Homo sapiens: one gene and its partners. The protein of the gene in region 2 interacts with the protein of the main gene of each other region in a biochemical or structural test. Each region holds a gene or a part of one and is shown on either strand. Other genes may lie near its edges. The genes, in order: EP300, HIF1A, EGLN3 and CREBBP.

Evidence for each region.
Region 1: the proteins of HIF1A (region 2) and EP300 form a complex in vitro, tested with the Homo sapiens proteins (25 studies listed by BioGRID and IntAct, with this or other methods).
Region 3: the proteins of HIF1A (region 2) and EGLN3 form a complex in vitro, tested with the Homo sapiens proteins (5 studies listed by BioGRID, with this or other methods).
Region 4: the proteins of HIF1A (region 2) and CREBBP form a complex in vitro, tested with the Homo sapiens proteins (6 studies listed by BioGRID and IntAct, with this or other methods).

The regions. Positions count from the first base shown.
Region 1 is NC_000022.11:41,151,509-41,160,126, reverse strand, and holds part of EP300 (histone acetyltransferase p300), read right to left. Parts: intron 8,295-8,618; coding exon 8,115-8,294; intron 7,922-8,114; coding exon 7,777-7,921; intron 5,133-7,776; coding exon 5,014-5,132; intron 2,959-5,013; coding exon 2,719-2,958; intron 1,716-2,718; coding exon 1,627-1,715; intron 1-1,626. UniProt on the Homo sapiens protein: Functions as a histone acetyltransferase and regulates transcription via chromatin remodeling. Acetylates all four core histones in nucleosomes. Histone acetylation gives an epigenetic tag for transcriptional activation.
Region 2 is NC_000014.9:61,697,770-61,706,489, forward strand, and holds part of HIF1A (hypoxia-inducible factor 1-alpha), read left to right. Parts: exon of another isoform or gene 1-81; coding exon of another isoform or gene 82-185; intron 186-8,720.
Region 3 is NC_000014.9:33,922,887-33,927,954, forward strand, and holds the end of EGLN3 (prolyl hydroxylase EGLN3), read right to left. Parts: intron 4,148-5,068; coding exon 4,074-4,147; intron 3,037-4,073; coding exon 3,005-3,036; 3' UTR 1,341-3,004; downstream 1-1,340. UniProt on the Homo sapiens protein: Prolyl hydroxylase that mediates hydroxylation of proline residues in target proteins, such as PKM, TELO2, ATF4 and HIF1A. Target proteins are preferentially recognized via a LXXLAP motif.
Region 4 is NC_000016.10:3,877,101-3,885,953, forward strand, and holds the start of CREBBP (CREB-binding protein), read right to left. Parts: upstream 3,614-8,853; 5' UTR 2,817-3,613; coding exon 2,732-2,816; intron 1-2,731. UniProt on the Homo sapiens protein: Acetylates histones, giving a specific tag for transcriptional activation. Mediates acetylation of histone H3 at 'Lys-18' and 'Lys-27' (H3K18ac and H3K27ac, respectively).

The DNA of each region.
Region 1 (8,618 bases), on a different chromosome or scaffold from region 2:
ATATACCAGGGAGAGAAGAACTGCTACTCATTACCTAAATACAGGAATCACACCTCTTCCCACTTACAAAACAAAAAACCACAGACCCCCACCCCCCACCCCAAAAGCCCACTATAGATACAACTGCAGAAAACAATAATCTAAAACAACCATTGCCAGGCGTGGTGGCTCATACCTATAATCCTAGCACTTTGGAAGGCTGAGAGGGTGGATCATCTGAGGTCAGGAGATCGAGACCAGCCTGGCCAACATGCTGAAACCCTGTCTCTACTAAAAATACAAAAATAAGCAAGGCATGGTGGCACACACCTGTAATCCCAACTATTTGGAAGGCTGAGGCAGGAGAATCGCTTGAACCCGGGAGGCAGAGGTTGCAGTGAGCTAAGATTGCGCCACTGCACTCCAGCCTGAGTGACAGAGTGAGACCCTGTCTCAACAAAGAAAGAAAAAAAACTGTTTATTGAAAAGCCTGCACAAGCAGTTAAATACTGACTACAGCCATCAAGTGATACATTTCAAAAGGAAATGATGTGTGCAGGTACCTGATTAAAGATGGCTTGGTGCAAAGATAAACACTTTAGACTACTGTTTTAGTAAACATGAGAAAAGTTTCATGTCCAGTTACTTGCTTTTTTAAACATAAGGTACTTATAACAACTTGAGTCCCACCTTTTCTAGGTTTCAAATGAGTAAAGAGCTAGATTTTTACTCACTGCAAAATCAAAGCATTAGGTCTACAAAGCATTAGAAGCACGCCTAACTTTTTGTAAATAAAAGAAAAAGTTTAAGTGACTTTTCAAAGCTAGAAATGCATCTGCAACACACAAGTTCAGCAAAAACCAACACCATGGATTTGGTATTAACAAACAAATAAAGGGTATTAATATCATCCAGCCTTGTTATTATTGTATCAGAGCCCCAAATAAACACCCAATGCAAGCTATACTTGTAGCTGATCACTGAAAACAGGAGACAAATTGTGGTTAAGATAGATTAGTGAATGAGATTTATGTGATTACAGCCATTGATTGGGCAGGAGAAAATTAGGCAGAGGTGCCTCGTTTATTAGACTCAAATCATCCTCTGTCACATACAAGGCTGGGTTGGGAAAAGTAAGGTACAGAGAGCTATGTGAGGTTTTCCTTTTAATTTGCTTAATATGAGGCAAAGAAAAGACTCCAGAATCCTGTTTTCATATATTCTAATAACAACTACTTAGGGATAGGCCTCATCTAAAAAGGAAATATTTCCAAAAAGCTGTCTAGCGAGTTTCAGTTAAAAGTTTAAAAATCTTCTCAGTTTTGCCTCAGGCTGTGGTGATCAACAAACACACAGTAGAAAGAGAAGTGGGGCCTGGGATATAGACCCATCTAGGCCAACAACTCACAAAGTTGCTTAACTTCTCAAGCTCTTGGGAGGAACCCAGGTAACTGATGCAAGGCTACTCTGATAGAAAATTTTATTGTTCTGCAAACAAAGGCAGAAGGCAAAAAACAGAACTTGTGCTATACAGCTGTCTTCAAGCAAGATACACATGAACCATGACTGTATGTGTGCTGGCCCATCCGCATGCACTCCCTGGACATGTGGACACATGGACCATGGTCCACACCTGGCCAAGCTTACCTGTTCTGGTAACTGTAATAAGTGGCATCACGAGGTATTGTGCACAACTGTTTGCCGTAGCAACACAGTGTCTGTGGAGAGAACTCCAACTGCAAAAGAAACCATTTGTTAAAAAGCACAGAGGCCTTAAGGACAAGCTAGAACAGTAAGAATGGCAAGTCAGAAACAGAAGTCAGTGGTGTCTTAGTTCTCATTTATGTTAATAATGATGGGCTAATTCAGTTCCTGAAAATCATTCTCAGTTTACTACCACATTATTTCAAAACGCTGAGGTAGGCTTAGCAGTCATATCCTTCCATCACTTTACCAAAGAACCTAACAGGAATAGCTGGGCAGGGTGGCACATGCCTGCAGTGCTCAGAAGCTGAGGTGGGAAGACTGCGTGAGCCCAAGAGTTCCAGACCAGCTTAGGCAACACAGCAAGACCATAGTCTTATTTTAAAAACAAAAAACCAATAATGTGAATTGGTATGTACAGGAAAGCCAGCACATGCTGAGGAATCTGCACCCACAGGTGAATATAAGAATGCCCCTACTCCAGATGAGTTAACAGTCTGTTGATTATTTAATTAGTCAACTTTTCCATACAATTGCCACTCTGAAAAAATGCCTTTAAAGAAAGCCCATTTCATATTAAGAGATATTACTACTGTGGCACACAGTAAGAGAAAGACTGTGTTGGCTGGGAGAGGTGGCTCATGACTGTAATTCCAGCACTTTGGGAGGCCGAGGCAGGAGGACTGCTTGAGCCCAGGAGTTCAAGACTAGCCTGAGCAACATCATGAGACCCTGTTTCTACAAAACAAATTTAAAAAATCAGCCAGGCATGGTGGCGTACGGCTGTAGTCCCAGCTGCTCAGGAGGCTGAGGTGGGAGAATTGCTTGAGCCCAGGAGGTTGAAGCTGCAGTGAGCTATGACCTCACCACTGCACTCCAGCCTGGGAGAATAAGACCCTGTCAAAAAGGAAAAAAAAAAAAAAAAAAAAAAGCCATGTCAAAGCCAGAAGCAGGATATTCTCTTATCCCAGTCACCACTATATTATTCTAGGTATCCCAGAAAAGTTAAAGTCAAATCTGAAACACATTTCTTACCTTTCTGCCACAACAGTATCCAAGGCTTTGCATCACTGGGTCAATTTCTTGTTCAAAGACCTCAGAGAGCTTGGAGCAGTATTTGTATACCCGTGATGTTTTCCGGTTATATAACCAGGCATTATTGAACATAAGCCAAATATCATCGACATACTGCCAGGGCTCCTGATACTGTCCAGTGTCTAACTTCCTCTTAATGGTAGAAAGATCCATGGGGCTCTTCACAATATCAAAGTAATCCTAGAAAGACAAGTGACATCAAACATTACTCAAGTCTCACTATTTTTACGGGAGATGGAGTATCATCCATTATCATTGTTAATTTTCCAGGCAGTGTTTTAGTTTCTGGCCTGTCTATATTCCCCAAGAGGTGACTGATGTCCATCACTTCTTTAAATATTAGTTTACAGAGATATTAAACTACTCAAAGGGCAGAGAAACAGAACTACTATGGACTTTCTAGACATCAGGCTGATATTCTACTGAAGCAACTTCAGGTTCTTTATGAAAGTACATGTGAGATCAGTAAAGTCAAAGACATTTAAAATTTTAGTACTAGAAGGGGTGTACAATGAGGAAACTAAGCCCACAGAACTTAAAATGTTCCATCTGAAATCACAGCAAGATACAAGAGAGGAAAAGTCCTAAAAGGCTTTTGCCCCTGGAAGCACTTGACCTTTGAGATGGAGTCTCTGTCAACATGTTGCCCAGGCTGGAGTGCAGTGGTGCAATCTTGGCTCAGTGCAACCTCTGCCTCCCAGGGTCGTTCAAACTATTCACCTGCCTCAGCCTCCCAAGTAGCCAGGATTACAGGCGTGCACCACCACGCCCAGTTACTTTTTATATTTTTAGTAGAGATGGGGTTTCACCATGTTGGTGAGGCTGGTCTCCAACTCCTGAACTCAAGTGATCTGCCTGCCTTGGCCTCCAAAAGTGTTGGGATTACAGGCGTTAGCCACCGTGCCCGGCCAAGTAACAGTTTAAAACCACCAAATGAAATCTGCCAGCAGCCTAGTATATGGAGGCAACTTTAAAAACAAAGCTAACCACGGTCCTTTTTTCTGCTATGACCTATTGCTCTTGAAACAACGAAAGTGGCCGGGTGCGGTGGCTCACGCCTGTAATCTGGGCATTCTGGGAGGCCGAGGTGGGTGGATCATCTGAGGTTGGGAGTTTGAGACCAGCCTGACCAACATACAGAAACCCCATCTCTACTAAAAATACAAAATTAGCCGGGCATGGTGGCACATGCCTGTAATCCCAGCTACTCGGGAGGCTGAGAGGTAGGAGAACTGCTTGAACCCGGGAGGGGGAGGTTGAGGTGAACTGAGATTGCGCCATTGCACTCTAGCCTGGGCAACAAGAGTGAAACTCCATCTCAAAAAAACAAAAAACAAATAACAACAACAAAAAAGTAAACAAACTATATAACCCAGGAATTCCACTCCTAGGTAAATACCAAGGAGAAATAAAAACTTAAATCCACACAATGTTCACTACAGTCCTATCTTAATAGTCAAAACGTGTAAACAACCTAAATGTCTATCAACTCATCAACAGGTAAAGAAAAATAATGGAATATTATTGGGCTATAAATAGGTATGTGCTACTGATTCATGCTACAACATGGATGAACCTTGAAAACATTATGCTAAGGAACGTCCTGGCACAAAGAATCACATACTGTATGTTCCAATTTAATGAAACATGTAGAACAGACAAATCCAGAGACAGAATGCAGTCTGGTGATGTCTAGGATTGGGGTGCTATGGGAGAAAATAGTGAGTGACTGTTAATGGTAAAGGATTTTTTTCAGATGATGAAAATGAAAGTGTCATGCACAACTCTGTGAATATACTAAAACTCCCTGAATTAGGCCAGGCCCAGTGGCTCACACCTGTAATTCCAGCACTCTGGGAGGCTGAGATGGGCCTATTGCTTGAGTCCAGGCGTTCAAGACCAGCCTGGGCAACATGGCGAAACCCCGTCTCTACTAAAAAATACAAAAAACTAGCCAGGTGAGGTGGCACATGAATGTAGTTATCCCAGCTACTCAGGATGCTGAGGTGGGAGAATCACCTGAGCCCGGGAGGTGGAGACAGTAGTGAGCCACGATCGTGCCACTGCACTCCAGCCTAGGCAACCAGAATAAGACCCTGTCTCAGGGGGAAAAAAAAAAAATCACTGAATTACAAATTTGAAATGAGTGGCTATACTGTTTGGAATGTGAATTATCTCTCAATAAAGCTGTTATCAAATTAAAAAATAAAATCAAAAGTACCACCAAATACTTACAGGGATTCCTAAAAGCTGAGGGTCCACAGGTTGACGAAAGGGAAGGGATTCTGGATCCTGACGGTAAAGTGCCTCCAAAGTTGGCATCAGTGCCTGTCGTAGTTCTTCTGGTTTGAAAACTTAAAAAAAAAAAGTGCATTTGAAATTAGTTACCAATTAAGCAGAAGAACTTTAAAAAATCATTCAGCCTGAAGCTCTAAAAGCATCTCAAGAATCAATAACAAAATTAACCACTCTGTCCCCATGGAAATATCACTACAGGCTCAATCACTGATTCTAGATTCTAAGCCCCGCTTTGTTTCAGACAGCTCCTAAAAAACATTGTGTCTTATCACCTTAAAACACTCTTCACCCTCAGCTTAACTTTTCAGTCACAAAGTCAGTGAAGACAGACTCGGTCAATTAGAAGCAGAATCCAAAGGCTTCTAAAAATTTATGAAGAGACTTTGCCAAATAAGAGTCCATGGGACCAGGCACGGTGGAGGCTGAGGTGGGCAGATCACTTTGAGGTCAGAAGTTTCAGCCTGGCCAACATGGTGAAACCTCGTCTCTACTAAAAATATAAAAAATTAGTCGGACATGGTGGCATGCTAGTCTCAGCTACTCAGGAGGCTTGAGGCAAGAGAACTGCTTGAACTCGGGAGGCAGATGTTGCAGTGAGCCGAGATGGCGCCACTGCACTCCAGCCTAGGCAACAGAATGAGGCCCCATCTCAAAAAAAAAAAAAAAAAAAAAAAGAGTGCACAAGATACTCGTGTTAAGAGGGAGATGCAGTCAAGCAAGAACAGAAAAGTCTTTCTTCATGACATCAGTATTTAACAAGTCAGAAACTAGACTAGATCAGGTATTGTCTTATACTACAAGGAGTCAGGGGCACAGAAGAGAAGACTCCTTCGTTCAAATGCTTGGTATTTTAGAGCCAAAGAAAAAGAGACATGTACTATTTTAATGACAAATGTTAGGTTTAAGTTTAAAAGAAGAGAGAACAAAAATGGTATTGCTAAAATAATAGACTTAGTTGATCAAATTAAGTTCAAATGTGTTCTCAATGATATTTCCCAAAAAGTCCGGAAAAATTTGTTGGTGTGTCCCAAATGGAATCAAACAGTTCTTTGAGAAGCCAGTGATTTAAAAAGCTTTCAATTTCAGCAAGGGCCTTATTTTTTCTTAATTGGCAAAAAAAATTTCATCATCGGTAGAGTATATTTGTTACTTCAGATAATTTTCACCTCTGGGGGGTTGCCATGGAGTGGGGGGAAACCAGACTACGAAGATGCTTGTCACTCATATTTAGCTGTGCTAAAAATAAGGACTATTTGAATAAACTTGTGAAATTAGACATTTTATTTTATTTATTTGTTTGAGACAATTACTCTCTGTCACTCAGGCTGGAGTGCAGTGGCGCCATCTTGGCTCACTGCAACCTCCTTCCATCTCCCGGGTTCAAGTGATTCTTCTGCCTCAGCCTCCCAAGTAGATGGGACTACGGGTGAGAGCCACCACACCCGGCTAACTTTTGTACTTTTAGTAGAGACAGAGTTTCACCATATTGGCCAGGCTGGTCTTGAACTCCTGACCTCAAGTGATCTGCCCGCTCGGCCTCCCAAAGCGGTGGGATTACAGGCATGAGGGAACACACATTTTAAAGAGAGATTGCCAATAGTAAGACTGGGTTTGTTACAGCCCATATTAAAACACCTCAATATATACAAGTCTTATTTTTAAAATGAAAATAATTTTTTAATCCCAACATTTTACAACACATTGTATTAATGGAACACTTTTCAATATATATCATCTGTAAGAGCCAGCAGACTCACTCCTCAGGTATGTCCTACCTGGTGCCTTTTGCAGATCACTAGAGCCACAAAAGTTCTAGTCCTAAAATAGTCAATTAACACTTGTTGGAATGGCTGGATTTGAGCACTCTGCCTCAGACTGCCTGGGTCTGCTTCCTGGCCCAGGCAGTAGGGTCAGCTGAGTAACCTGTGGAAAGTTACTTAACTTTGCTAAGCTTCAGGCCAATAACCTCAGAGCTGTTGTGAAATTATTAAATGAGGCCGGGTGTGGTAGCTCATGCCTGTAATCCCAGCACTTTGGGAGCTCGAAGCGGGTGGATCACCAGGTCAAGAGATCGAGACCATCCTGGCCAACACGGTGAAATCCTGTCTCTACTAAAAATACAAAAATTAGACGGGCATGGTGGCATGCGCATGCAGTCCCAGATACTCGGGAGGCTGAGGCAGGAGAATCGCTTGAACCTGGGAGGTGGAGGTTGCAGTGAGCTCAGATCCCGCCACTGCACTCCAGCCTGAACAACAAAAGTGAGAATCCGATTCCAAACAAAAAAGAAAAGAAAAAGAAAGAAAGAAATTATTAAATGAGACAATGTGGATACTTAGCACACAGCAGGTGAATGACAAATGCTATTACTATTGCTATTCTTTCCTGCATTTTAGTCAAGGCTATTTACAAACATTTCTCTCTCCTGAAAAATGAGACAATTTTTAGGGTGTACTAACACAGGGAACCCTGAAGAAATGAGGGGAATGACTTAACTCATTGGTTGCTGCAAGTGAATATTAAAAAAAAAAAAAAGAAAGAAAAATTATTAGTAACAATGAAGAGACCAGGCCCAGGGCTTCCAGGTTAATGAAATCACAATAATGGCAACTTCTGAGGCCCAAGAGGCATGACCGCAATTCTGCCCTGGGTCTTTGGTTTCTTCAGCTACCTCCAGAACGAATGGCTTCAGAGACTCACTCTTTTTCTTTGACTGTCCTGGAGCCGGAGATGACTGGGTAGCTGAAGTACTTGGCTGGTCTTCCTCCTCTTTTATTTCAGTTTTTAACTCAGTGCTTCTCTCTTCTGTTTCGGTAGATTCCATTTTACAGTCTTCCACTTTAGACTAAAAGAAAACGTAAGAATTTTTAGTATTCCAAAGATATCTAGTTGGGAATCAGTAATCTGAACACCCTTTCTCATGCAAAATCTATGCCATGAGATCTAATTATCAAAATATTTTTCTGCAATATTTTTTAAAACTTGGGTTCCTATACTGAGGTCCTAACCAAATCAAACAGTAATTGCCCTACTCTCACCTCTGAAATATCCTCCGGCTGAGTATCTGCTGGTTCTGGTTGATCCACTTCCATTTTGGCCTCCATCTTCACTTCCTGGGAAGGCTGCTTCTCAGCAATGGCCTGAGAATTCACTTCTGTGCTACTAGTAGATGGAGGATTTGATACCTGTCCTTCAATGCTTACAGCTGGCTGGGAAAGCTGGGCAGAAAAAAAAGGGAAGTAGGTGAGACACACGCAGAGTCTGCCAACGATACAATCAGAATGTAAGGTAAGCAACAGGATAGCAGAATTAGCCACCTATTTCTTGGCTTATATTTATTCATGGTGCTTTCATTTGCTCTGCCCATTTCACCTCCCTTAATTATGCTTAAGAACAGGAGAATTAAGACTTGTAAATACTGGTTGGCTGATTGTACATCAAAGAACCAGCAACTATTTCATTGATAACTATCATTATCTGGCAGTGTGTGGGGATTTCAAAGATGTCTGCTTCAGAGGAGCTCACATTTATACAGAAATGAG
Region 2 (8,720 bases):
ACTAATTTACAGTTTTTTGAAAGATAACTGAGAGGTTGAGGGACGGAGATTTTCTTCAAGCAATTTTTTTTTTCATTTTAAATGAGCTCCCAATGTCGGAGTTTGGAAAACAAATTTGTCTTTTTAAAAGAAGGTCTAGGAAACTCAAAACCTGAAGAATTGGAAGAAATCAGAATAGAAAATGGGTATGGTTATGATACTGTAGATTTAACGCAGGACATTTCATGTTGTTCCTAGTTATAGGGGCTGAACTTATTTAATAGCACGTGCATTTTGATTTTTAGATTTTTAAGGGAATGTCAAGAGAGTAATGATTCTGTTTCAGGCTTCAGGCCAGACTCCTTCAGAGTTTTCCAAAACAAATAATTACTGAATCATTAAAGTAAAATTTCTGAGAATAGATATTCCTTAATTTCCTTCATTAACTTTGGCCATTAAAAGTCAAGAAGCTCTCTCATTTATTAGCAAACTTTTCTCCTTATGATTCTATTTTGATTGTCCTTTTGTTTGAGGAAGCAGCATATGGTGGTTAAGAGCATAGGATCTAGAGGCAGATACCTCTGAGTTAAGGGTCCCAGCCCTTCACTTGTGAGCTTGAGCAAGTTACTGAATGCCTCTGAGCCTCTTTCCTCCTTTTGAAATGATGATAAGAATAGCAGCCATCTGAGCAGTTATTGTAAAGGTTAAATGAGATAATGCTTGTGAAGCACTTAGCCCATTGCAGGAGTCTTGATGACACTGTGTACTTGAAAATAGATGTTACCTGTTAAAATTCTTGTTTAAACTTCCACAACTCTTAAAACTCTTTTTTGCTAGTCCTTCCAGCTGTTTCCTTTAGTTTCTTTTCTGTGTCTTCATGCATCTTTTCTATCTCCTGAAAGTGAAAAGACTAACATTGGATCCAGAGCTTGAAAAGCGTTTTTTTCCTGTTACAATGGGCAAAAGAGTACATCCTTGGGTTATATTGGCACCTAGTATCAGTTATTTTTCTTGAGCATCTGATCTGCTCTCTACTCTAGTGGAGGCCTCCTGCTTCACAATTGCTCACCCCTGTGTTTTCTCCCCAAATAGAATACTGAGTTTACTCTGGACTCTAGAGTCAAACATACACAGTATTCTAGTCTTACTGTTCATTTAAGCAAGATATGTGCAAGACACTGCATTCTTAGTACTGGCAGTAAGTTAAAACATTTTTCGTCTTGATGCCAAAGTTTAGACAATTTTATAAAAATTAACCTTTGTAAAAGATAATGAGTTGATAAAATATTCTCAGTAAAGCAGCTACGTGGTAGAAAAACTGTCCTTTGCTTATGAGTTTCTCCAGAGTTAAGACCATTGGGTTCCATCTGAAGGCAAGACTTCAAGCTTGTCTTACTGGTCTGTTTTGTGGCTCAATTTGTATGAAGTCTATGCACTCTTCCACACGTGTGTATTTACTGAACTATCGAGTTATTTTAGACTGAGAAAGTATTGGAGTTCATTCCTACGGTCCACTGCAGAGCACCTTGTGCAGTTTGGAGAATGTCAACTTTTCTACCTGTTAACTTCCATTGTCTTTACTTTTAACGCCATTGTCTGTGACTCTAATGGTGTCACGGCTCAGGGTTTAGATTTTGTGGTTACATTCTATTCTTGTATGTCAAGAGTGGTGTATAGAAAGCTGAGGGGGATTATTTAGTCTCTTGACTGATTTTTTTTTTTTTTCTGAAGAACTCAGTTTATTATGTTTGGTGGTGAAATAAAAATTGATGTGCATGGATGTTAAAGATTTGGGTTAAATTGTGTGTTCATAGATGCCTTCTCTTAGTATATAATTTTTTAAATTTAGATACTTAAAATACTGTATCCCTTTATCTAAGATTAACATAAGTCTGTTTCTTAACCAGGATAAAAAAATCTAAATTTAAATGTGATGTTGGATGAGTTTCCAATCAAGAAATTGATTTTTTAAACTTTGTGACTAGTTATCCAGTGGGTGGATTTTACCCAGTGTGTGTATGTGTTTTCTGCTTAACTCTGGAAGGTTAGAAAGAGAATTTGAAACTAAGACAAGCCAAGCTTCTTGTTGCTCAGTATTTTTGGTAAAAATATGGTCAGATTGTTTAAATTAACTATAGGCTTTGGAATTTTAAAAATAATTATATCTCTTGGTCTCTTGACACATCAAGAATTAACTGTTTTGTATATGCGTTGAGTATTAATGTTCATGTTTTCTGCAGTAGAAATTTATAAACCCTTATTTATTTGCCAGACATGATCCCTTTAGAGAAATCTAGTATCTAAAACCTGAATTTTTAAAACAAAATTTAAAATTTTTGTTTCATAAAAACAAAAATGTGATTACCTCATGGCTTTTTTCTTATAGCTTTTGATTGTTTTTTAAAATCGTAGTTCAAAAACATTAACCTAAAATTTACCATCTTAACCATTTCTAAGTACTGTTCAGTAGTGTTAAGTATATTCACATTGTGCCACTAACTTCCAGAACTTTTTCATCTTGCAAAGCTGAAATCTTACCCATTAAACAACTCCCAATTTCCCCCTCTCCTCAGCCTCTGGCAACCACCATTTTACTTTCTGTTTCTGCAAATTTAACTACTCTAGATGCCTCATATAAATAGAATTATAGGGTTTTAATATTTTTGTGATGGGCTTATTTCACTTTGTGTAATGTCCTCAAGGTTCATCCATGTTGTAGCATGTGTCAGAATTTCCTTCCTTTTTGAGTCTGAGCAATATTCCATTATATGTTCCATATTTTGTTTCTCCATTCATCCAGCAACGGACACTTGGGTTGCTTCCACATCTTGGTTATTGTGCTGCTCTGAACATGAGTCTGCAAATCTCTCTTTGAAGCTTTCACTTTTTTTGGATACATATCCAGAAGAGGGATGCTGGATCATATGGTAACCCTTTTTAATTTTCAAGGAACCACCATATTGTTTTCTATAGCAGTTGCACCAGTTTACATTCCCACCAACAGTGCACAAGGGTTCCTATTTCTCCACATCCTTCTAAACACTTGTTTTCTTTCTTTCCTTCCTTCTCTTCTCTTTCTTTCTTAGCCATCTAATGTGGCAAAGTGGTAGCCATCTAATATGTTGAAGTGATTGTTTTTAAGGGCTTGTTTGTGGATAATTAACCAGCTGAAAGCTAACTACAGTTTGCCAGTGGAAGCTTTAACTGAAAGGAGAGTAAGTACCTCTAAAAGGAGAATTCAATTTTTCTAGTGACTTAGATTTGTTATGCCAGTACTTTTTCACAGAAACACTTTTTGGGTAAAATAGTGTACACCTGTTCTATTGTTGATAAAGCCCAATTTAATTAGGAAATTTGTTCTCTAAGATTTAAAACAATAATTGAAATAATGTATTTTTATTAAAAACTGTTCCCAAGATGTTAGCTTTTAGCTGTTCTGGTGATCTCAACTGTTATTTATGAGTGTTTCTTTATTTTAAAATTTCACCTTAACCGGTTACAGTTTTAACCATAAAGATTATTTCAACATATGATTTTGAAAATTTATTATCTTGTAAATGGGAAAATGTAGTGATGGAACATAGTTTACTGTATGTAGTTCTTCACTTGTTTGAAAAGTCACAATATATTTAGGCAAATTAATTTAAAAGTGTCTAGTATTTAATATTGCAATTTTCACTCATTAAGGACAGGTCCCCCGTGTTTCCCCCTTTTTTTTTTCCAAGTAGTTTGGGAGGATTTGTTTTTCCAGCTGAAAAATACTATGGTTAAAAATAAGGTTTAAAGGCGAAAGTTGAAGTCTTTGAGGGTTGGGATACGTTTCTGTTCTTAAGAGTCTTGTAAATTCAGATGCTAAGCAAATTTCTTTAAAATGATTTCTACCCTCCCCCTTTCCATTATAAAACTGGATATGTTTCAGTGGACCAAATCCCAAGTAGGCTGAATTTGAAATTTGTGGGCTGGGCGCGGTGGCTCATGCTTGTAATCCCAGTACTTTGGGATGCCGAGGTGGGTGGATCACCTGAGGTCAGGAGTTCGAGACCAGCCTGGCCAACATGGTGAAACCCCATCTCTACTAAAAATACCAAAATTAGCCAGGCGTGGTGGCGGGTGCCTGTAATCCCAGCTACTTAGGAGGCTGAGGCAGGAGAATTGCTTGAACCTGGGAGGCGGAGGTTGCGGTGAGCCAAGATCGCCCCATTGCACTCCAGCCTGGGTGACAGAGCAAGACTGTGTTTCAAAAAAATTAAAAAAGAAATCTGTGGTGTGAATACTGGTACGTGGTGTACACAGTGAGCTCTTAATAAGTATTTGAATTAACAAATGAGACAATGATTGAATAATTGGATGAACAAAGAGAATGCAGGTTTTTAAAAGGTTTCTTTAGAAATATTGTCGGCCCGGCACGGTGGCTCCTGCCTGTAATCCCACCATTTTGGGAGGCCGGGGCAGGTGAATCACCTGAGGTCAGGAGTTCAAGACAAGCCTGACCAACTTGGAGAAACCCCGTCTCTACTAAAAATACAAAAAAAAAAAAAAAAAAATAGCAGGATGTGGTGGCACATGCCTGTAATCCCAGCTACTCGGAGGCTGAGGCAGGAGAATCGCTTGAACCTGGGAAGCAGAGGTTGCAGTGAGCCAAGATCGCGCCACTGCACTCCAGCCTGATGACAGTGTGAGATGCTGTCTCCAAAAAAAAAAAAAAAAAATTAAAAAGAATGTTTTAATTCTTTAGTTCCCTGTCTGAGATTCACTGATTGGTAAGAAGAAAGTTAAAGAATCTCCTTTGACTTTTTTTGATATAGATATTTAAATTCTATTACTTTATAGTAAGGTTGGGGTTTATTTTCTTTGCTTTATAATAGAAGAGCATTGATTATTCTCTTTGCTTTATAATAGAATACCATTTAAATAGGAGTTCCCTGAGTGTGTTTACAATCATTTGATCTGGCTAAACTATTTTAATGTTAATGAAATTTTAAAATTTTGGAGGAAAAAATTTAAAAACTACACAGGTGCACAAAGAAATAAAAATCACCTGCTTTTTCACTATGTAGAGACCATTGTCTACTATTTCTCAATTCTGTGTTACATCTGTATGTTAATAACTGTAGGATTAGGGACTGAGTACTGTTTTTAACCTGCTTTTAAAAAATTTACATCTACATTTTTTCCCATCTAAATAGTGAGGAAGAGTATCAGAATTTTGTAGGCTTGTGGTGATGGTTAAATTAGATAATATTAATGTTGGGTACTTAACATAATATATGGCTCTTAATACTCTCCAGATTTCAGATATAGTCTGTTTTACCATTACTGCCTTTTTATCAAACCTATTCTCAAAAAAGTGAGAAAAGTGCTGAGATTACAGGCGTGAGCCACCATGCCCGGCCTCATGGTTCTTTCTTAATAATAAATTAGAAGAAGTAGAATTACAGGGTCAAAAAGTATCCATTTTAAAGCTTTCAATGTAATTGCCTGTTTATCTTCTAGAAAGTTTGACCTAGTTGTATTTTAGAGTGTCATTTTCTTGAACTTTATCATCATTAAAGTTTTAAATTTGGAACACTGGCAATTTGATAAGTATATTAGGATTCTTCTTATTGCAAGTAGCAAAATACAACTCAATCTAGTTTAAGAGGGGAAAATGTAGTCATTGGCTAACACAATCTAATTTTGGTTTAAGAGACAAATCTAGAGTCTCAAATGATCTCAGAGTGTAATAATCCCTGACTTTTGTCTTGATATTACTTGGCTTGTATACCTTTGCTCTATTTGCATGCTGGCCTTACTCTGCCACTGACAGGCTGTCTGTATGGTGTGGAAGAGGACGGCTAGCATCCCCATACCTGCATCCATACAGTTTGTAATATAAAAAAAAAAAAAGTAAAAAAAACTCCCTCTCTCTTCTAGTGTCTATATATCAGTTTCCTAGAAGAAAACGTTTTGCCCTACTTGGCCATGTGAATGGAGTTCCCTGATTACATGAGTCAAATATGTCTTATTGTAGCATATTTGATGGTCTTCTTGTAGAATATTATCTTACTATACACAGAACTCTTGACCAGTAATTAATGGGCCATGAGTTTTTGTTGCAAGTCATTTGAATTCATATTCTATAGTTTTCTACCAAGTGTAGTCATTCTGCAAGCTGTTCTTGTCATGACTTTTGGGAAGTTGAGTATTTCTTCTATGGGTTAGGGTTTTCATCTCAAGAAAAAGATGATCCTTTTCTCTACTAAATATGTGTTAAGATCACACATTTTTCTAGATCGTTTAGCTCTACTGTGTGATCTTACACAAATTGCTTTATTGGGATGATAAGAATAATTGCCTTATAGGATTGTTATGAGAATGAAATGATACATCAACTCATATGAAACACTCAGAACAGCTCTTGGCACAAAGTAAGGGCTTAATTAAGTAGAAACTATCCATATATTCATAATATTATAGTATTGGTTAAGTTGTTTTCAACATTGTTTAGAATCGCTCAAGCCTTCTTTGTGATAATCTGACGAAGGCTATTCACCACCAGTGAGTAAATAATAGTGGCAGAATAGTTACTGATGCTTTTCCTTTACTTGGTTTTTTTTCCATAAACATCTGGCCTTTGCAGACTAAATACTGGTTTATGTATAGACATGTTATTCTAAAATAATTTTCCATAGTGGTAATACTAAAGGAAGAAAAATGTTCTCAAAGCTATTTATTTGGGATGTTAAAGGAGGGGGAAATTAAGAAAGCCTACATTTCCATGTCCTTTGTGTCCAGAATCTCATTAAATGTCTTTTAACTTGTTAGCAGAGGAAAGTTGGATATTGCCTGCCTTTGTAGCTAACATAGTTAAAATATTTAAATGGTTATAGTGTCAAACCAGTAGTCAAAGCCTTCACTGTGAATGGATGAAGGGATATTTTCTTGAATAATTTAAGTTGACTTATTTCAGTGGTTCAAAAAATTTCTTCAACGCTTAACCATGACTCAGGCACCTAACTATTATACTATGTCCTGTAACAGATTGTTGTGCATTCATTTATTCAACAGGTATTTGTGCAGCTAATTTATTGAGTACAGCATTGAATCGTTGATGGCTTAGGCCACAGTTGAACATTCCATTTTTTATGTTCATTCATTCATTCATAGCATATTCCATTTTTAAATTTTCAGTTCATTGCACTTTAAAGTTTGAGGTTCTTGCGAAGTACAGACTTTTGGGTTTAAGTTTTGTTATTTAATGTCAACCACCACAGGCGCATTGGCCAGTCTGCTTTTAGAATTTTCAGACATACATACACAAAACATTCTCACAAGACAATCTACTTATTTTCTTTTTTATTCCTGTGTTTCTTAACACAGGATTAATGTTCAGATCTCTTTTGGAGCAAAATAATCCTCTGAATTTTTGAGATGTACCCAGTGACCTCAGTCTGAGTATGTATACTGCATTAAAAAATGTAACCTTGTTCCTTTTAGTGGTCATTTGGTAACAGTTTGATCATAAACAAATGCAGCCTCAAACACAGAAGGCTTGAGGCAAGTATACAGAACTATGGAGAGATCATTTAGATGATGTAGAATATGCCTTTTCTTTTTTTACAATGCCACCAAAATGAAAACACGGTTTTAAAAATTCTCATAGAGTGTAACTTCAACACTGCTTTAACTCTATTAAACAAAGCACTGCCATGTTGTAATTCCTATTTATTACTCTCTGGAGTTGTATAAATTACCAAATCCGCCTTTTGTTTGATATCCTTTTCAAATATCTGAGGGTAGCTATCATGTTTCTTCCTTCTATTCTTAAAAAATAGTCCCAAATTTCTTGAATCTTTTAATTTAAAAATTATATATTGAGCATCTGATTTGTGGAAAGGCATAGGCCATATTAAAAATGGGGCTTCATATTAAAATGGGGAAAAGGGTGGAGATTCTCAGGTGGAATCTGAGATCTGCCACACACTAATAGTGTTACCTAACCCTTTTTAAAGACAAAGAAACAGGATCAGAAGGTCACTTTGGAAAATTTATTTGGTAATATTGGATAGGATGGATTAGTATAGTTGGAAAACAGAGACTCTTGCTTTAGGAGAGCTGCTCCTTTGTCATTTCCAGAATCTTAATCATGGTCAAGGTTTAGAGCTAAATATTTAATAGAAGAAGTCTTTAGGGTATGCTTTCTATTGTACACCCTTATTTCAATACATGTGTTTTTTCCTGTTATGTAAGTACTTTATTATTATTTATGCATCTTCTATTAAAGTTAAGCAAATAATTATTTCAAGGACACATTCTTCTACATACACACAAAGTTTAGGGTCACTGACCTTCTTAGGTTCTAGTCTTAGATCTGTTACCATCTAAGAGCATATAAATAAGGGAAACAGAAAGAAAAGGATTTACAAGCTGAGAAGGAAGCAATGCAGAGAAAGAAGAGTGATAGAGTAGGTAATTTGGGGAAAGTCAGTGATACACAGCTCTTAACCATGAACAGTGATTCTTCACTCTTGAATGTTTGTGACATTCATGAAGGTATTAAAAGCTGACTTTTAAAAAATTGTTTCAGAGAACTGGAAAAAAATTCAGTTGCCACATTCTTCCTTAGGTCATCTTTGAACTCTACTCATGCACTTACGTGTTTAAGGCAAAGTTTTACTAAACGCACACTTGTTCTTGCTGGCTTATTGACTTTTACTGCTAGCTTCTTATTCTTAGCAATTATACCTCACATTACATAGTAT
Region 3 (5,068 bases), about 28 Mb from region 2:
GCAAAGACGGCGCCACTGCACTCCAGCCTGCGTGACAGAGCAAGACTCTGTGTCAAAAAAGAAAAGTTTATTTCTATTCTGTTCTAACAATACTTTCTAACCACCTTACTAACCAACTCTTCATGCCATTCAAAAGATTCAAGACTGTAGCTAAGTCAATGTTGTATCGTTTTAAAAAATAACTTTACTAAGAATATCCCTTCTGCTTGTCCTCGTAGTCGATCAAATATATAAGTACCTGACATATCCAAACTCCTATCTTATATAAACTGCTGGCCCAGCATGGCATTTCCCATCATTGCTTTCTAAAACACAGGAAATTTCAGTACTGAATGGCCAAAAGAAATTAGGACGACCCAGCCTCTAAAAAACCTGAGTTAAAGAAAAACAAAATCATGTCTGAATGGATAATTCATGATTCTGACAGTCCAGCATTTAATGGTATTAACTACTCTACTAAGGATCTATCTAATGCACTTAGGTAAGACTTTTTATTTCCATGAAATTGGATCTTTGGTTCAAAATTTAATCTCCTACCAAGAACTCTGGACTATATAAGTGACATAATGGTGAGGTAGGCTCTTAATATTTCATTGCCGGGAATATAAATGAAATTGATCAGATTATTTGCCAAATAATGTTTCTTTAGCAGGGCTAACTCCTCCCCTAAATGGGCTGTCAAAGAGAGGAGCAAAAAACAGACTCCTAGCATTAAAGTTGTATTTTCCAGCTTAATTTTCCAGGACTCAAATTGAGTCATTAAAAAAAAAAAAAAAAAAAAATCAGTGCACATAAAAAAAGTGGTTTGTTAGCTTATAGGACCTTTGTCTGGAAGGAATAAACAAAGCCTTGGAGGTCAGATCTTTTGGCATATTGACTAAAATGAAAAATACAAGACATGCTTTTGGAACTATATGATCCTCCTTCAGAATATTGTCACTATCATTCTTATGACATTAGAAATCATGAAAAATATATAACTACAATTTTACAGAATACAAAATTCCTAATAAACTTCGTCCTTTCTTTCCTATTGAAATTTTTCAAGATTGTTCGAAAGGGGAATTCACTCTGTCCTATCTGAGACTAATGTTATTTTACTAATGTTGTTTCTAGGATATGGAAGGGCAAAATATAATTTGTTCAATTTTCAGATTCATAGTGGTCAGTGAATGACCTATTCATGGGTATACAAATACGAAGCAACACTATGACCAAAGCGTTCTAAAACTCTTAGCGTAAATGTGTAAGTCAACAATGTTAAAAAGATGTGTGTAAAAATTCTAGCAAGCCCTTCCTGCCAAAGATGGAATATATTAATCAAACCATTAGAATGCTAATGTAGGAGACTGAGTTTATTCAACAAGTATTTACTGAGCCCTTACTATGTTCCCGGCACTATTTTAGGTGCTGAGAGTATGTTGCATTGGTTAAAAATATACAAAATTCCTGTCTTCATTGTGCTTACACTCCAGAGAAAGGATACAAGACAATAAACATAATAAGTGAATAAATTACATAGTAATTTAGAAGGTGATAACTATTACCGTACAACAAAATAGAGCAGTCGTTGAGAATTAATGGTGACATGTCTTATCTGGAAATTTTCCAAAACCAGAAGAGGAAAAAGTAAACTTCTATCTTGGAAGACTATATATATATATATCCGTACATAACAAAGGAAAATATTTCTGGCTCTTTAATGTTCATGGGATTTTCAAGCAAGAAATTAAAGGGATTTTTAAAACATGAAAGTAATACTGAAAACTAGGAAAAGTAGCTTTTGCAAAATACGTGCTCAATACCAAGTTATTGAGGCAGTGCGATCTGTGCTTACTGCAGGAGTAGAAGCTTCCACAGTTCTAGCAAATTCCATGATTCTGGTCATACTGCCAACCACAGTGGATCTAGAGAGCCAAGTGAGCTGAAGAAAGACTGCTAGGGACAGACGAGAACTCAAATAGCTTTGAGATTTTTTTATTTCCACTTCCTTTTTTAAAATACATCACCTTGCTTTTTTTGTGTTAAAGGGTGAGCTCATTAAAAAGGAAAACTAAAAAAAAAAAAAAAAAAAAAACAGGAACACCCACATTTCCAACTCCACCTCCCCTCTCAAATTGTTCAAGATGCACACATGTTTATTGTATATCAGTAGACCTAGCTCTTTCCACAGTTATCAGTGGTTAACACAAAACTACCAGGGATATATTTTTCCTTTCATTTAAATTTAAATTCCATTCCAACAAAGCAACCAAAACAACTAATGTCTAGTTTTTTAGCTTCTGGGGAATTAGGTTCCCAGGTAAGAACTGAAAATGGAGAAAAAATTGTGTTGCCATCTTTATTCAGAAAGTCATTATTTTCAGCAAAATGGGGCTGAGGCAGAAAATCCAGGTTGCAGGACTGGGAAAAAAGGAGTGTCTGCCCCATGGGACACTTATAAATTGTTCACTATGACAGCAGCCCTTTCTAGAGGTATTAATGTCATTAGGTTGTGATAATTCTCCAGAAACCCCAACAGCCCTGGATTAAGAACATCTGGAAATTGTTCAGATGACACAAATTTCTCTGTTTCCTGCTGTTAAGGCTTCCGTGATGCCTCTCTGTGGCATCTACCACCTCCATTTTTTTCTTTTCAAACCTCCTCCTTTCAAATCAGGAAGTATACATAAAGTGCAAGTAAGGTTCATTCCCTCGCTGTGCTCCTAGGCTCTTCTCTTGATAGTATTACCGAATCTATCAGGTAAACCGCTGGCCGAGTAGGATGTCTGCAGGAATTTCTGGAGTTAGCAAGTAACTTCATCTGGCAAAGAGAGTATCTGAAGATCAACACAGTCTTGGCAAGAAAACATGAAGTACCACACACAAGACAGGGATGTGAAGGATGCAAGAAGTAGCAGGGAGATTGTTGTCACTGAAGAGGCCATCTTTGGATCTCAAAGAATTTAAGAGAATTCAGGAACCGTTACTAAAATGAACAAGGCCAGCAGATTTCAGAGCACGGTCAGTCTTCAGTGAGGGCAGATTCAGTTTTCCCTGGGTTGGGGACAGAAAGGAGAATAAAGAGGGTATGGAGTCAGCTCTGATGAGTTTTATGTCACAAATGTCACCAAAAAGCCTCCAGTAAACACTTCCCATCTTATATAAGCCTCCTAATAGAGCTCTGCCAAAGGATTCTCTCTTGACTTTGCAATGGGATCTTTCCCATATGCCTCACAGACTGTGGAGGAACTTTGGGTTTACATCCAGCATTGGCACCTCTTGGGCTAATGCTGAGCATAAGTTGTATGAAGTGTAGCCTCACTCACATATCAGAGTTAAGCAGTGTAGGCCATCTGGAAGAGAAAACAAACTGAGATTTCCTGGGTGCAATTTGGAGACCACTTTGGTATTTGAGAGGTATACAGTCCAAATGGGTTATGGGCTAGGCAATATTATATATGTTTCCTTACTGCAGGATCTCTTAGCGCCTTAATTTAATATGCTAGTGAGCAATGTGACTCTTTTTAAGACAGGCATACAGCATGCAACATTTCCCACATTTTTGGGACCAGGAATTTACCAAATTGGCAGGATTTGTGTTTTAATGCAACGTATTTTGGGAAATGCTGCCTTCTAATACTGGTTGGAAGGGATAGGAGTAGTGCTGTTATATTCAGTTTATATTACATGAGCCCTGCTGTTATACTGAGAGTCACAGTCTCACCCAATATAATAAATTTTGCCATCATAACTGGGTTCCATTATATTTCCTTTGCAATATGCCAAAAATCATGGGCAAAATTTAATGTTACATTTGACTGGTTAACATTAATAGGAAAAAGTTAACTATTTCCCATCTATCATAAACCATCATACATTCAGTGGGCATTCTCAGGGGAAGCCCCTTGCATTGTTTCTGATTTTTCTAAGAGCCCTAAGGCCAAGGTTTCAGGATAAAACCCATCAAGATGTCATTATATATAAAGCTAAGCCGTAACAGATTGAACAGAACATGTTTAAAACTACATAAAATTGAATAAAAGTCAAGGATTAACTTGATCAAAAGTCACAGAAAATTATCAAACACATACTAGTTAAATTCCTGAATTTCTTTTTGGCTTCTGCCCTTTCTTCAGCATCAAAGTACCAGACAGTCATAGCATATCTGTGAAAGATAAGCAGATATAAGGAAAGAGATTTAATGGTACTACTAGAAACACAAATGTCCTATAAATCTCACATTAAAAGTTTTAAAGTTTTCTCTATTATTAGAAGTCTACCCTGATTTATTTATTTATTTATTTATTTATTTATTTATTTATTTTTTGAGATGGAGTCTTGCTCTGTTGCCAGGCAGAGGCGTGATCTCGGCTCACTGCAACCTCCACTTCCCAGGTTCAAGCGATTCTCCTGCCTCAGCTTCCCAAGTAGCTGGGACTACAGGTGCACGCTACCACACCCAGCTAATTTTTAAATTTTTAGTAGAGATGGGGTTTCACCATGTTGGCCAGGATGGTCTCGATCTCTTGACCTGCCCACCTCGGCCTCCCAAAGTGCTGGGATTGCAGGTGTGAGCCACCATGCCCGGCCTGTCTACGCTGATTTTAATTTAAAATTAACTTCTCTGGTTTTAATTCTATTTCAATGTAATAAAATGCATAAGGAATTCCAGGTATGTGCCAGAAATTATCTTGGGCATTAGGAATTCAAATGACCCTGTGATCAGATCTTCCTCTGCGATCTCAGGCTCCAAGTAGGGGAGACAGGTGATTTTGCAATAATGCAACAGGTAAACATAGCCTCTACAGAAAGGACTAGAAGGGAGTCATTCTGCTAAAGACTGGGAGACCCAAGTTGGTGGCGAGAACATAGAGAAGAGATGACATTTGAGTGAAGCTTTGAAAAACGACTTATGTAAATCACAGTATGTTTAAAACTCTTGGCTTGCTTTCTTTAGTTTTGGACATTGAGGCAAAATTGCAATTGAATAATAATAATGCCCCAGAGCTTTCTACTGCATCCCCACTAATTTGCTTTATCCCATTCATTGGATAGACTGTAATGGGAGCCATTTCATGCTTGGTTT
Region 4 (8,853 bases), on a different chromosome or scaffold from region 2:
AACCCCTCAGCTCCTAGACAGAGGTCCCCTCCCTCAAATTTGATCACATGCACCGGGCACACACCCTGCTCCACTAGGCCCAATTTTCCCCTGGGAGCCTCAGAGACACATCCCGTCACTAAAATAAGATTGAGTTCCTCAAGAATGTTATTCTCAGGTCTGTCCCACCTAACCAAATGCCTTCAGTTTTTGAATGTATTTAATGTAAAAACTCAAGCCATTTATTTGTTTAAAATACATCCCTAAGATCTCTGTCCATCTCATTACTCAATTTCTTAGTGGAGCAGTTACAACAGACAAAGTGTCCCTCGTTTCTTTTGGAGACAGCGTCTCACTCCATTACCCAGGCTGGAGTGCAGTGGCGCGATCTTGGCTCACTGCAACCTCTGCCTCCCGAGTTCAAGCAATTGTCATGCCTCAGCCTCTCAAGTAGCTGGAATTACAGGTGCATGTCACCATGCCTGGCTATGTTTTTGTATTTTGAGTACAGATGGGGTTTCCCCATGTTGGCCAGGCTGGTCTTGAACTCCTGACCTGAAGTTGATCCACCAGCCTCCGCCTCCCAAAGTGCTGGGATTACAGGCATGAGCCATGGCGCCCAGCAGCCCCTTGTTTAATGTGCTTGATAATGAGCCCTTCCTTGGTCCCCCATACTAACAGACCCTTTCACAATAGTGTGATGGTGATGAATGTGTAACACATGACCCAACTTAAGTATGATGTTGACTTTCTACTTTGGATTAAATCGGAGCCATTTAAAGCTGACTTTTGGTCCCACGAAAGAGCCCCTGTGCCTTACAAGGATCAAAATTGTAAAGGAAGGGGGAAAAGGTGGTTAAGTGTGGAAAATCCTTTCTGATCAACTTATTAAGCATCTGATCATCCAATAATGGACACTACTATGGAAAAAGCTAACCTTTGGGCTCCATCTTGGAAACAGCTGGATGTACATATAAGGACATGCCTTTTTGTTAAGTCTTGTGTTACTAATTGTCCCCCTTTTTAAGACAAAATCTACAACAAATTCATTCAACAACAGCAAAGCTACAAAGCCATCCAGGTTACCAGTTTCAGAAGACAAGCTTCAAAGCTGAACTCGCCACGTATGACCTACGTCTCACAGAACTGAAGACTACTCAAACACAGCAAGATTAATGAAGCAACGGAGATCTGTTTTGCAGTACAACGGCATTTAAACTACTGTTTCCAAATTTCTCACTTCAATAAGTTCATTTTATAAGATTAACGTCAAACTCAACTTTTATCAGCTAAAAAGAAAAGCATTAGTGATTTTTATATACCATGAGCATCATTTACTCCTCCCCACTGTTTAACAAATTTTAACTAGATAAGAATCTCCTTATGATTGATCTTTAAAAATCGCTTTTCACTTCTACATTAATATTAAACGTCGCTTATCATAACTTGATTCCAGGAATTGTATTCAAACTTAAGCCACAAAATTCAGGTTTTGTTTCAACAGCAATAGCAGTTTTTTTTAATATGCTAGTGGTCGGTCACAGAACTATTTCCACAAGTTGAACAGCTGTGTCTAGTGCAAATCTGAAGGCAGCGATGTAATTCAATTTGGACTCATTCATTAGAAACTGATTTTCAGATGCTACCACTGCAAGACTACTGGAGAAATGCAAGCTGCGCTGGAGATGGAATTGTTCGCAGCGGCACACAAGTTTTTGCGGCAAAGGAGAGAGCTCTAAAAGAGGAAATACAACTAGTTCATGTTACCATGAACCAGCGCAGTGGGACCCAGAATTACTGAATTAATAGAAAACTAAATACTTCTCTTAAGCAGCTATGATAACTTAAGAAAGTTTCCAGGGAAGCCGTTTAATGAAAGGAAACAAACAAAAAGATGATTTATTCAGTATCCTGCTCCATTTTTTTGAAAAATTGGAATTCCTACATTCCTTAATTCTTTGTACATCTACACTGTGAAAGCAACACAAACTCAAATGGAGATTGCAGCCCAAATGAACTTAAACCTGCTGTTTAACTTTCTTTTGAAGTTATACATGGAAATGAAACACACCACAGCAACTTTCATGACATCTTGCTAACGAAGTTTGGGTTTTGAAAAATGGAATGACTAGTTGACTAAAAACACACACGCGCGCACACACACACACACACACACACACACAAAACAAGGAGTTTTGAAAATAAGCACTAAGCATCTTTCCAAGGAACTCACTCATTCCAAGAAACTTCGGTTCTAACTCGCAAGCTGGCGGCTGCTGTGAGTGTCCTCTGAATGCAGCCTGGTCAATGTGTCGCCAATCCAGAAAACACACTGCCCTACCTTTGGCCGCGATCTTGCTTTCTCTAAGCATCAAAGGTACCCTCCGCTGTCATTCCTCTGGACGGCCACGCGTGTGGACACGGCCGCGGATGGATGCGTAGGACATTACCAAACAAACCCACACGCTGCACTTTACTTCTTCCCTCCTGGAGTGCCACTAGGGTCCCCGCGAGGAGGGCTGATCGGGTGCGGGGAGGCCGAGTGCACCGGGCGTGTGCTGACCAACTCGGGCCCAGTGACAGTCCTGCGACGAACTTCCACCCTCCCGCGCGGGGCGAGGGGAACGGGCTGCGGGGCCTGCTCCGAGCTCCCGGCTCGATCGGTATCCGCGACCACGACCCCCGGACGCTCTCTTTCAGGTGGGGGTGACAGCGCGCCCCGGGCCCCCGCCGCCCCGGACCCCCTCCTCACCTGTGCTGTCATTCGCCGAGAAACCGGGCGAGCTGAGTTTGGCTCTTTTGGGGTTGGGCGGTCCGTCCAGCAAGTTCTCAGCCATTTTCACCTGCTCGCGAAAACAGCCCCGGGCACGGGCGGCCGGGCCGGCGAGGGCCCGGACGGGGGTCGGGGGCCCTGCCGGCTGCGAGGGAGAGGAGCGAGCGCGGGCCGCGAGCGGGCGGGCGGGCGCCGAGGGAGAGGGAGGGCGCAGGCCGGGTGGGGGAGGCGGCGGCCAAATCTCAGCCACAGCAACAGCGCCCCGCAGCGCTCACCGCCCGCCCCCGGCCGCCGCCGCCGCCGCCGGCCGCGGCCCCCTCATCCCCTGCCCGCCTCCCGAGCGCGACACTCCGCGGTGGGGGCGCCCCGGCGGCCCGGCCGCCCCCCCGGGCCCGGCTGGCAGCGACGGCGCCCGGCCGGGCGGCTCAGGCAGTCCCCGAGAACATGGTGCCGCCGCCGCCGCCGCCTCGCTCCCCCCCCGCGCCCCACTTAATGAATTCGCTCGCGGCCCGACGACGAGGGGGCTCCGGGCTCCGCTCCCGGCCCGCGGCCCGCCGCCGCCGCCGCCGTGAGGAAAAACAATGCGCCGAGCGGGGTCGCCGCCGCCGCCGCGGCCCCCCCACCCCCCGTTCCGCCGCCGCCGCCGCCGCTGCCGCCGCCGCCGCCGCCGGGCTCCGGGAGGCCGAGCCGAGAGGCGAGCGGGGCCGCCGGGGCGGGCGCCGAGGGCCGGGCGGAGCGGGCCGGCCGGGCGGAGCGGGGTGCGCGGGCGGTTGTGGGGCCCGGGACCGGCGGGGCCGAGTAGATCGCGCTCGAAGCCCCGGTCGGGTCCGCGACAAGATGGCGGCTGTTGATTCCTCAATTAAAAAAAAAAGAAAGTTTTTTTTCTTCTCTTTCCAGAGCCTGAACGGGGAGGGGGTGGGGGCGGGGCACGCCGGTGCGTCACCCCCCCGCGGCGTCACCACGCACGGCCCCCGCCCCGCCCCCTCCACCTGCGCCGGCCGTGGCGGAAAGAGCCGAGCGTGCTCGGGCCGAAGGGCTGAAGGCGCGGCCGCCAAGCGTAGGGAAGCTGGCGGCCCGGCGCGGGCCAGGCCTGCGGGGCGCCTGGGCTCCGGGCTGAGCCACAGCTTTTGTTCTGATGGCGACCAGGCGTAGAGGGCCGGGGCTCCGGGCCCCAGCGGGCTCCGGGAGCGGCGGCCTGGCCGCGGGCTGGGCTCTCGGGCGCGGATTCGACGCCAGCCCGGGCCCGCCCGTCCCGCTGGGGCGGCGCTGCGTGTTCCCAGCTCCTCGCGTCCCCTTCCCCAGACCCTCCTAGGTGGCGTCGGTCGGGAACGGTCGGGGCGACCCCAGCCCAGGCCGCGCCACTAGCCTTCGCCGCCGGCCAGGGAAGTGGAATGGCCTCTGCAGGTTACAGACCGCCCTTGGGTCCTGCCGACGAGGTGGGCGGATGGGGAAACTGAGGCGGGGGGCGAGCAACTGCTCCAAAGTGGTCGAGGCAGGAAGTGGCAGGGCCGGGATTCGGGTCCCGCCCTACCTCGTGACACTAGGGAGTGAGGGGGCCTCACGCCTGTTCGCATCCCAAGGCGGCAGGGCAGACACCCTCACCTGTGAGAGCGGGGTGGCGAGGGCCGGCCTGGGCGGAGAAGGGCCCGCGCATCGGGGCTTAAGCCTGGACGCTCAGGCCGCACTCCCCGCCCCAGGCAACTTGCCTGGCGCCTCGCAGGTGCCCCAGACAGGGGTGCGGGCCTGGGGAGTCCCCCACGCGAGACCACAGCCCGCGGGACACTTCTACGAATACCCGAGGTGTTCCCATCCCAGTTAGTTATCTGCCCCTCCAAACTTGCCCGGCTTCCTCATAAAGGTATCAGCAGCTCCACTGTTTCCTAAGCCAGAAACCCGTGAGTCAGCGCGGACTCCTCCCTCTCACCCGCCACGCGCCCCTCTACCCACGGTCTTTACCTGGGAGACTGCTCCTCCCGCACTGTCCCGGTGGCTATGGTGGCAGCTACTCACTTAAGTGTTCTTTGCTCTCCACGTTGCTCCCCACGCAGCACCAGAGTTAACATCCCGAAAAGAGAGGGAGAAAATCTGTTTAAAACAACTCCCTGGCCAGGCGCGGTGGCAGATCACCTGAGGTCAGGAGTTCAAGACCAGCCTGGCCAACATGGTGAAACCCCATCTCTACCAAAAATACAAACATTAGCTGGGCGTGGCGGCGTGCGCCTGTAATCCCAGCTACTCGGGAGGCTGAGATGCGAGAATCACTTGAACTGGGGAGGCCAGTAAGCCGGGATCTCGCCATTGCACTCCATCCTGGGCGACAAGAGTGAAACTCCGTCTCAAAAACAAAACAAAACAAAACAAAATCCCAGACATAGAAAAAGAAAACACTACATAGTCTTTCTTTAAAAAAGAACACGTATGAATTCTCTTAAAAACATAGGTGTATGTACATATGGTGACTGTCCTTGAGTGTCAAGATTGAGTGATCGTTCTGCTTTTCTCTGTTTACCTGTACTGCTCAAAATCTTGGGCCGTGATACCGCTCTTGAATCTGTCTCTTCTACTTTACATGGCTCACTTCACCATCATCATCCTACACCCACTTGGCCAGTAGGCAGTTCACATCATTCAGGCTTTTTTTTTTTTTTTTTCAAATGCTGGTCCCTGTGCTGAGAAGACATGCCTGGCAAATTCTAACTCATCCTCCAGAACCCAGTTCAAATGTCACCTACTCCAGGAAGCCCTCCTAGCCCACTCCTCGGCTCCCATATCACTTCTGGGCTCTGTGAGAGAACACATAACACATCCTGCCCCATCTTCCCCGCCTCCACTGCCCCCGAATTAGTTCATGTTTTTACTTATGCATCAAATAGCTCTTGAGAATCCCAAGGGCATTGAGACTGTGCTAATCCCCTTGGCCAAACATAAAGAGATCCCCATATATTCAAGGAGTTAAAATAGCACACCCTGGAAGCCATAAATGGAAGTATTCAAGAAGTCAGTTTGCACAGGAATGGCAAGAAGTGTATCAGTGGCACAGGGCAGGCCACACCCTGTATCTGAATGCTCTGGGTGTCCGTCTCACCAAGGGTCTGTGAGCTCCTTCGGGGCAAAGATGGTGTCTTAGTCACAGAAACAGTGCTCTGCAAGAAGAAGTAGGTTTGTAAAACTGAATGAGTGATGAGCTGTGTCAGGTGCTCTGAGTCCTAGAGGCCTTCAGGCCACTGAAAAGGGTGGGCCCCAGCCTGAGGTGGCTCCAGGCCACTCTTCAAACGGGACAAGGTGTCCAGCCACCTAGAGGTCTTAGGGCCTGCCTTGGGGCAGTGGAGACACCATGCAGCCCCCCAGGGGTCCATTGGTGAGTGGTTTACACAGAAGTGGGCACAGGAGCTTGAGCCATTCCCTGACAGGTTTCCATTTTACAGAGGAAAGCAAGGGAACTCAGTCGCAAGGACTCAGAAGTAAATAACCCGGACATGGCAAGTCTGGGCCTGGAACCCATGTCCTCACTCTCCAAAGACCCTAGTCTTCCTGTCTCACCATGTTCCACCCTCAAAATATACCGGCTCTGCAGTCCCTTTTTCTGTCTCATTGTTCTCACCTGTATCATTTTGATCAATTCTGGTATTCACTGATACCTGTTTTTTCTTTCCTTTCGATTTCTTCTCCCTTCAGTCTGACTCAAAGAACCCTGAGCTCAGACACTGATGGGGGAATAGCAAGGAGGGAAGCGTGGCTCCTGCCTGCACTCACTTAGCTGGGGATCACCTTCAACAAGTGAGTGCCTTAGGGATACCAGGCCGCTCTGCCATGCCTCCCATGGATAGCACTTCCTACAATCCTGGAAGGAAAAATTGTCCTCATTTCACAGATGAAGAAATAAGGCACAAAGGAGGACAAGCCACCCAGCCACGAAGGGGCTTCACTCCGGTGCACACCTAAGGCTTCCTGCTCTTTCCACAAACCTCACCCTCTCCAGTCTCAGATACCACATTAAAAAACAATCAAAGGACTGGGCATGATGGCTCATGCCTGTAATCCCGGCACTTTAGGAGGCCGAGGTGGAAGGATCTCTAGAGCCCAGGAGTTTGAGACCAGCCTGGGCAACAGTGAGACCCTCATCTCTACAACAAAATGTTAAAAAGTGAACTGGGCGTGGTGGCATGCACCTGTAGTCCCAGCTGCCTGGGAGACCAAGGCAATAGGATCACTGGAGCTCAGGAGGTTGAGGCTGCAGTGAGCTATGATCAAACCACTGCACTCCAGTCTGGGCAACAGTGAGATACTGTCTAAAAAAAAAGAAAAGAAAAGAAAAGAAAGAGAAAGAAATGGAATTGGAATTGTTGGCTGGATGCGGCGGCTCACGCCTGTAATCCTAGCACTTTGGGAGGCTAAGGTGAGTGGATCACTTGAGGTCAGGAGTTCGAGACCAGCCTGGCCAATAAGGTGAAACCCTATCTCTACTAAAAGTACAAATAAATGGCTGGGCATGGTGGGGGGGCACCTGTAATCCCAGCTACTTGGGAGGCTGAGGCAGAATTGCTTGAACCCGGGAGGCGGAGGTTGCAGTGAGCCAAGATCGCACTCCAGCCTGGGCAACAAGAATGAAACTTCGTCTCACAAAAAAAAAAAAAAAAAAAAAAAGAAATGGAATTGTTGCAATTTGATATTGATTGTCCCTTTCTAGGCTTAAATAGATTAAAAGATAGCATCAGGTTTGGACTTTGCCTTCAAGCGATGCAGAACAGCATTGGGGAGAAAAACACAAACAGGACACACATTGAAAAGATAAGCAGAGAATCCAAGTCAGAATAGCACAAAATCATAATAACTGATCCCCCAGGGGTGGGAGTCCCGGGGTTGGGGGGCAGAGGCCTGGGGGAGTAGTCCCAGGAAGGCAGGATTCCAGCCAGTTCCTGGTGGACAGAAGGCAGAATGTGGTCTGGTGGTGTGGAGGGATCCAGACAGAGCTAGGTTCAAGTCCCAAACCTACTGCTTTTTCTTAGCTGTTTTGAAAACAAATACCTCGGCCAGGTGTGGTGGCTCACACCTGTAATCCCAGCACTTTAGGAGGCCAAGGCGGGCAGATCACCTGAGGTTGGGAGTTCGAGACCTGCCTGACCAACATGGAGAAACTCCATCTCTACTAAAAATACAAAATTAGCCGGCCTTGGAGGTGCATGCCTGTAATCCCAGCTACTCGGGAGGCTGAGGCAGGATAATTGCCTGAACCCAGGAGGCGGAGGTTGTGGTGAGCCAAGATTGCACCATTGCACTCTAGCCTCGGTAACAGGAGCAAAACTCCATCTCAAAAAAACAAAAAAAGAAAAAAAAAAACAAATACCTCCTCACCTGCTGAGACAGTTGAGGTGCGGTGGAGATGAGATGGAGGGTGCACAGGGTCCCTGGCACACCAAGGCACCATATAGCTGCTATTTGGGGCAGTGGGAAGCAGGCGCTCAAGGGTGAGAGGCCCCTCTCCTCTCTCTGCCGTCCACATGGGAGGCTGCACCCGCCCCTCTCGTGGGGGACTTGCTGTTGCTTTTTTTTTTTTTTAATTATACTTTAAGTGTTAGGGTACATGTGCACAATGTGCAGGTTAGTTACATATCTATACATGTGCCATGCTGGTGTGCTGCACCCATTTACTCGTCATTTAGCGTTAGGTATATCTCCTAATGCTATCCCTCCCCCCTCCTCCCACCCCACAACAGTCCCCAGAGTGTGATGTTCCCCTTCCTGTGTCCTTGTGTTCTCATTGTTCAATTCCCACCTATGAGTGAGAATATGCGGCGTTTGGTTTTTTGTTCTTGCGATAGTTTACTGAGAATGATGATTTCCAATTTCATCCATGTCCCTACAAAGGACATGAACTCATCATTTTTTATGGCTGCATAGTATTCCATGGTGTATATGTGCCACATTTTCTTAATCCAGTGTATCATTGTTGGACATTTGGGTTGGTTCCAAGTCTTTGCTGTTGTGAATAAAGCCGCAGTAAACATATGTGTGCATGTGTCTTTATAGCAGCATGATTTATAGTCCTTTGGGTGTATACCCAGTAATGGGATGGCTGGGTCAAATGGTATTTCTAGTTCTAG